Linked DNA regions of Homo sapiens: region 2 is linked to region 1. Evidence: fine-mapped expression QTL. Tissue or cell type: whole blood. Region 1 holds a variant in brackets; the other region holds the start of a gene. Each region is shown on its reference strand, or each on the opposite one.

Region 1 (2,914 bases):
AACAATAAATGGATACGCCCCTATTCACTCTAGTCTGATTTTGCAAAACAATCAGGCAAATCCCAACTGAGAGACATTCTATAAAATATTTCATCAATATTCCTTAAAACTGTCAGGGTCATCAAACAAAAAAAAAAACAGTAAAATATGAGAAACTCACAGTCAAGAGAAGCCGAAGGAGACAGGATGACTGAATATAATATAATATCCTCGATGGGATCCTGGAACACAAAAAAAGGATATTAGATTTTAAAAGTAAGGAAATAGGCCGAGCGCACTGGCTCACGCCTGTAATCCCAGCATTTTGGGAGGCCGAGGCTGGTGGATCACCTGAGGTCAGGGGTTTGAGACCAGCCTAGCCATCATGGTGAAACCCCATCTCTACTAAAAATAAAAAAAAATTAGCCGGGCATGGTGGTGTGTGCTTGTAATCTCAGCTACTTGGGAGGCTGAGGCAGGAGAATCACTTGAACCTAGGAGGTGGAGATTGCAGTGAGCAGAGATCGTGCCACTGCACTCCAGCCTGGGTGACAAGAGCAAGACTCTGTGTTAAAAAAAGGAAAAAAGAAAAAGTAAGGAACTAGGAATAAAGTGTGAACATTAGTTAGTAAATAAATAAACATCAGGAAAGCCAGACAAAATGTACAAAGCAAGTGATTTTAGATATTGAAAAAGGTAGCATGGGGAGATAGAATTTTCAGAATTGAAGTGTAAGGACTTCAGAAAATCTGCTCCTAAAAAAAGCAACAACAAAAGCTAGCATGTAATCCAGCACTCTAGGAGGCTGAGGTGGGAGGCTCACTTGAGCCCTGTAGTTTGAGACCAACCTGGGCCACAAAGTGAGACCCCATATCTAGTTAAAAAAAAAATACCTGGCAAATGTAGCCAGAAAGATAGAAACTGTTTCTGAGGTAGTCCAGATGTTGGAATTACTAAACAAAGACTTTAAATCAGCTATGTAAATATATTTATAATAGGTAGTAAAATATATATTCATAAGTTATAGAAATCAATGTAATACACCATATTAAGAATAAAAATGTAAAAAACCATATGATCATCTTGATAGGTGAAGAAAAAGCATCAAACAAACTTCAACACCCTTTCATGATAAAACACTTAACAAGCCGGGAAAGCTTGAAAACTTTTTTAACCTGATAAAAGGCGTCTATGAAAACCTCACAGCTAACATCATACTCTAGGGTGAAATACTGAGTGCTTTCCTCCTAAGATCAAGAACTAGATAAAGATGACAGTACTTGCCACTTCTAGTCAACTGTGATGGTTAATAGTGAGTGTCAACGTGATTGGATTAAAGGATGCACAGTATTGCTCCTGGGTTTGTCTGTGAGGGTACTGATTCATGCTACAACATGGACAGACCTTGAAAACATGGGCTGGGCATGGTTGCTCATGCCTGTAATCCCAGTACTTTGGGAGGCGGGGGTGGGGGGTCGGATCTTTTGAGGCCAGGAGCTCGAGACCAGCCTGGCCAACATAGTGAAACGCCATCTCTACTAAAAATACAAAAATTAGCTGGGCGTGGAGATGCACACCTGCACTTCCAGCTCCTAGGGAAGCTGAGGCATGAGAATTGCTTGAATCCAGGAGGTGGAGGTTGCAGTGAGCCAAGATTGCACGAATGCACTACAGCCTTGGTGACAGAGCAAGACTGTCTAAAATATATATATATATATATATATGTGTGTGTGTGTGTGTGTGTGT[G/A]TATATGTGTGTATATATGTATATAATGTGTGTATATATATACAACATTATGCAAAATGAAAGAAGCTAGTATAAAAGGGCCACATTATATGATTCCATTTACATGACATGTCTATAAGAGGCAAATCCATAGGGAAAGAAAGTAGATGGGTTGTTCCTAGGGGTTGGGGACAAGGTAGAATAATGACTTACTGCTAATGGGTACTAGATTTTGGGTTATGAAAATGTTTCAAAATGAGATAGTTGGGAGAATTTTACGACTCTGAATTAAATTTACTGAATTTACTGAAATTACACTGAATTTTATGGTATAGGAATTATATGAACAAAGCTATTTTTAAAAGGCTATGCAAAACAGCTATCCTCAACAAGGTTGGAAACTTAGGGATGATCTTTCTTATTTTCAGTCCTACTATCTGGAGAGCATTTCCAGGCTTCACTGTAGAAAGGAAAAATCAAAAATATTCCAGCAAACTCTTTTAGTTGAGGAGACAATGTTTGAAGACCAGGGAAGCCTCAGCTTCCCTAGTAGCTGGGACTGCAGGTGTGCACCACCACGCCCAGCTAATTTTTGTATTTTTAGTGGAGACCGCGTTTCACCATGTTGGCCAGGGAAGCCAAGAAAGCTAGAATTCTTGGGACAATACCAGAAAAAAGGAAATTGTGCAGAGAGAAATATCAGATATTTTCTGGTGGGCTTTCTTGGGCCTTTGACTGGGTTTAGATCTGAACATGTGTGTGAATAAACTACCTGAGGCTGGAGAAAGTATCACTAGAAAAGGCTGGGTGGAACATTCATTTTGATGTACCTCTAGTAGTTTCCAGCACCACGGGGAAGGTAAATGGGAGTGACTGCTAATGGGTGCAGGGTTAGTTTTTATGGTAATGAAAATATTCTAATGCTAAACAGTTGTGATGGGTGCACAATTCTGGGACTATACTAAAAACAACTAAATGGAACACTTTTTAAAGTGTTATACTGTTATAAAGTAAATTTTATTGTATGTGAATTATATGTTAATAAATTTATTTTAAATTCATAAAAAATTTCCTAGGTTTTCTTCTAGGATTTTTATAGTTTCAGGTATTACATTTAGGTCTTTAATCCATCTTGAGTTAATTTTTGTACAAAGTGAGAGATAGGAGTCCAGTTTCAATCAATGGAACTCCCATGTCCTAGCAGTGAACA
Region 2 (2,914 bases), not on the chromosome of region 1:
CAGTGAGCCGAGATGGCACCACTGCACTCCAGCCTGGGCGACAGAGCAACACCCCGTCTCAAAAAAAACATAAAAATAAAAATAAACATCTGCTGAGAGAACAAATGTCTGAGAAAACAATATCTAACATATTTACATCCTGGCTATTTACAAAGACATTTAAACTTAATGTGTGTTGGGAAACTATTGGGCAAAGTTCTCACTTCTTCATACAGATGAACTCAGCTCACGAAGGCTTGAAATGACTAACAACATTTAAGGGTCTAGGGGAAGTTTGGGAGACATGACTGCAAATCACCTCCATGGCTCCTCAGCCAGCTCAAGCACTTTCTTCTCCCTAAGGAAATAACCAATCTCCTGCCCAACACACCAGTTTTTCAAGCCCATGTAGGAGGCCAACTCAGCCAGCAATTAAATCGCGCTCAGCCCGCCGCTCAGTTCTCCGTGGCCTCGGGCAAGTCACTCTACCACTTCCAGCCTCAAGTTCCCCATCAGTAAAAGGTGGGTAACATGAATAGCTAGCAGACAACAGGACTGTAAAAGATTAAATGAGGCATCGTGTATATGAAAGGGCTCAGAAAACTTAAAACGCCGCACAAAGAGAGGCGAGTGTTAACAGGGGCCGCGTGCAGGGGGATTTGGGCTTGCGCCTCAGCTTCGGCGGTCGGAGCAAGTCACTTCCCCGCTACTAAACTTCGGTTGTCTCAACTCTAAGATGGGTGGAGACCAGGCAGCGCCGAGATCACGGAGCGGGGCCCAAATGCCAGTCCACACAGGCAAGGAGGCTGCGCCGCCGAGACCCCAGGACCCCGGAACGCGGGGGCCCCAGGGGGCAGCCCCTCAGGTCCACGAGGCGGCACCCTGTCCCCGCCGCGGCCCCGTCGGCCTCCCAGGGCCGCCAGAGGGACTGCGCCTCGGCCAGTGGGCGGGCGGTCGGGGCCACGGCGGGGACGGCGGCAGCCGGCCAATGAGGAGCGCGGCTGTGGTCGGGGGCGGGCGCACCCGGTCCTCCGCGTCGCTCCCGGATCGCTACCTCCCCCGCCTCGAGCTCCACTAGGCCGAGGACCCTAAACCCCGAAGAAAGGAAAGGCCTCTCACCGTCCTTTCGCCGCCGCCCCGCGCTTCCTGATGAGTTCGTCCAGGGAGATGTCCGCCATCTTGCTCCGCCGAGCAAGCCGAAAGCAGTCGAGACCCCGCGAGCCCGCCCCTTCGGCCGCTAGGGAGCGACGAACTACTTCCGGCGTCCGCGGACCAACTCTCGCGACAGCCAGCTCAAAGCAGGCAAGAACCGGAAGGGGCGGGGACGTTCCCCGTGAGCCTTCGCGGTGCTGGCTGCTCATCTGCATACGGAAGTTCGGCACATTATGAATTATTTATTTTCCTCGAGGGAAAAAATTAAATGAAAAGCAACAAAATACATTATTAACAAGTGAGACAAACTTCAATGGAACTGGATCATGACCTCAACAGTCAACTACGATAGTCATCATACGCCTAATGAGAATAGAATTCATTACCTAGGAAATAAACTAAAAACGTCCTTATGCCTTAAACTTATGAGTAAGGAAAATAACGATTCGGGGTGACGCCCGAATCCTCACTGCTAATGTGAGACGAATTTTTGAGCGGGTAAAGGTCGCCCTCAAGGTGACCCGCCTACTTTGCGGGATGCCTGGGAGTTGCGATCTGCCCGACCTTATTCACGCCTAAAAAGTAGACTGACTGTGGGGTGGTCGTGTTTTTTGTTTCTTGTTGGTAGGTGGTGAATGCGTTTTTTTCGTTGTTTTCTCCGTTACTCAGGCTGCCAGTTGCTTGGCAGTCTTGTCGCTGGCTGTGGACGCTCTGCACTTCATCACCGTCCCCAGCTGCGCTTTGAGCCGGTCTAAGGTTGCCCACAGTATTGACGTTGGGACCCACGAAACTGGCAATTTCCATGTGTGCGGCCTTACCCAGTTCTCCCAAACTTCTGCGTATAACCGCTTCTCTGTGCTTCAGAAAGATAAGTCCGGCCCCGGCCTCACACAGCAGCTCAGTTCGTGACAGCGTTTAATATGTAAAATGGAGCAAATAATTTATAGGGCGTTGGGAGAGTTAAAGAGACTAATTCATTTACGTGTTAAATACAGGGAATGGCTTTTGCATTGATATAACCCCAGCCTCCAGCATGCGCCAGACCTGACGTAGGTGTTCGGCACATATTTTGTCCAATCACTCTAAAAATACACTCCATGCCCTTAGAACAGGTGGGGTTATGTCCTCTTGGCCATCAGGCATCAGGAGCTCCGTGCAGAAACTGGGTAAGAGGCCAGGAGCGGTGGCTCATGTCTGTAATCTCAGCACTTTGGGAGGCTGAGGCGGGTGGATCACCTGAAGTCAGGAGGTCGAGACCAGCCTGGCCAACACGGAGAAACCCCGTCTCTACTGAAAAAAAAAAAAAGAAAGAAAAAAATTAGCCGGGCGCGGTGGCACGGCCTGAAATCCCACCTACTCAGGAGCCTGAGGCAGAAGAATCGCTTGAACTCGGGAGGCGGAGGTTGCGGTGAGCCGAGATCGCGCCATTGCACTCCAGCCTAGGCGACAGAGCAAGACTCCGTTTCAAAAAAAAAAAAAAAAGAAAGAAAGAAAGAAACTGGGTAAGAGCGATCCTGCAATCCTCCTGCCTCAGCCTCCTGAGTAGCTGGGATTACAGGCCCGCCCCACCACGCCGGGCTCCTTCCCAGACCTCTTTTCCTCACCCATAGAACGGGACCATTAAGCCTTTCCTCCCTTCCAGGCGTGCCAGGAGGAACGCGCAAGAGGTGGGAGGAGGACAGGCTGGCCAGTGGGGTCAGCTGGGCAGTGTAGGGCAGATGCGGAGGACAATTTTATTTTTATTTTTGAGACGGTGTCTCGCTCTGTCGCCCAGGCTGGAGTG

Evidence for each region. PIP is the estimated chance that this variant, and not a neighbour inherited with it, causes the effect.
Region 2: POLDIP3 starts here. The variant in region 1 is fine-mapped to the expression of POLDIP3 in whole blood (TOPMed, PIP 0.94).

What each region holds. Positions count from the first base shown.
Region 1 is chr9:122,583,161-122,586,074 of GRCh38, forward strand. It overlaps OR1L8 (olfactory receptor family 1 subfamily L member 8), which reads right to left and starts at 224. Exons shown (of 5, transcript NM_001004454.2): 1 at 161-224. The variant G/A (reference allele first, on the strand shown) is at 1,726.
Region 2 is chr22:42,613,701-42,616,614 of GRCh38, forward strand. It overlaps POLDIP3 (DNA polymerase delta interacting protein 3), which reads right to left and starts at 1,183. Exons shown (of 9, transcript NM_032311.5): 1 at 1,099-1,183. The coding sequence starts at 1,157. RNU12 (RNA, U12 small nuclear) reads left to right here and starts at 1,544; the gene lies at 1,544-1,693. LOC124905127 (a long non-coding RNA gene) reads right to left here and starts at 1,079. Exons shown (of 2, transcript XR_007068118.1): 1 at 1-1,079. RefSeq lists enhancers at 491-1,034, 1,035-1,578, 1,071-1,250, 1,331-1,390, 2,041-2,170 and silencers at 671-1,000, 1,541-1,600.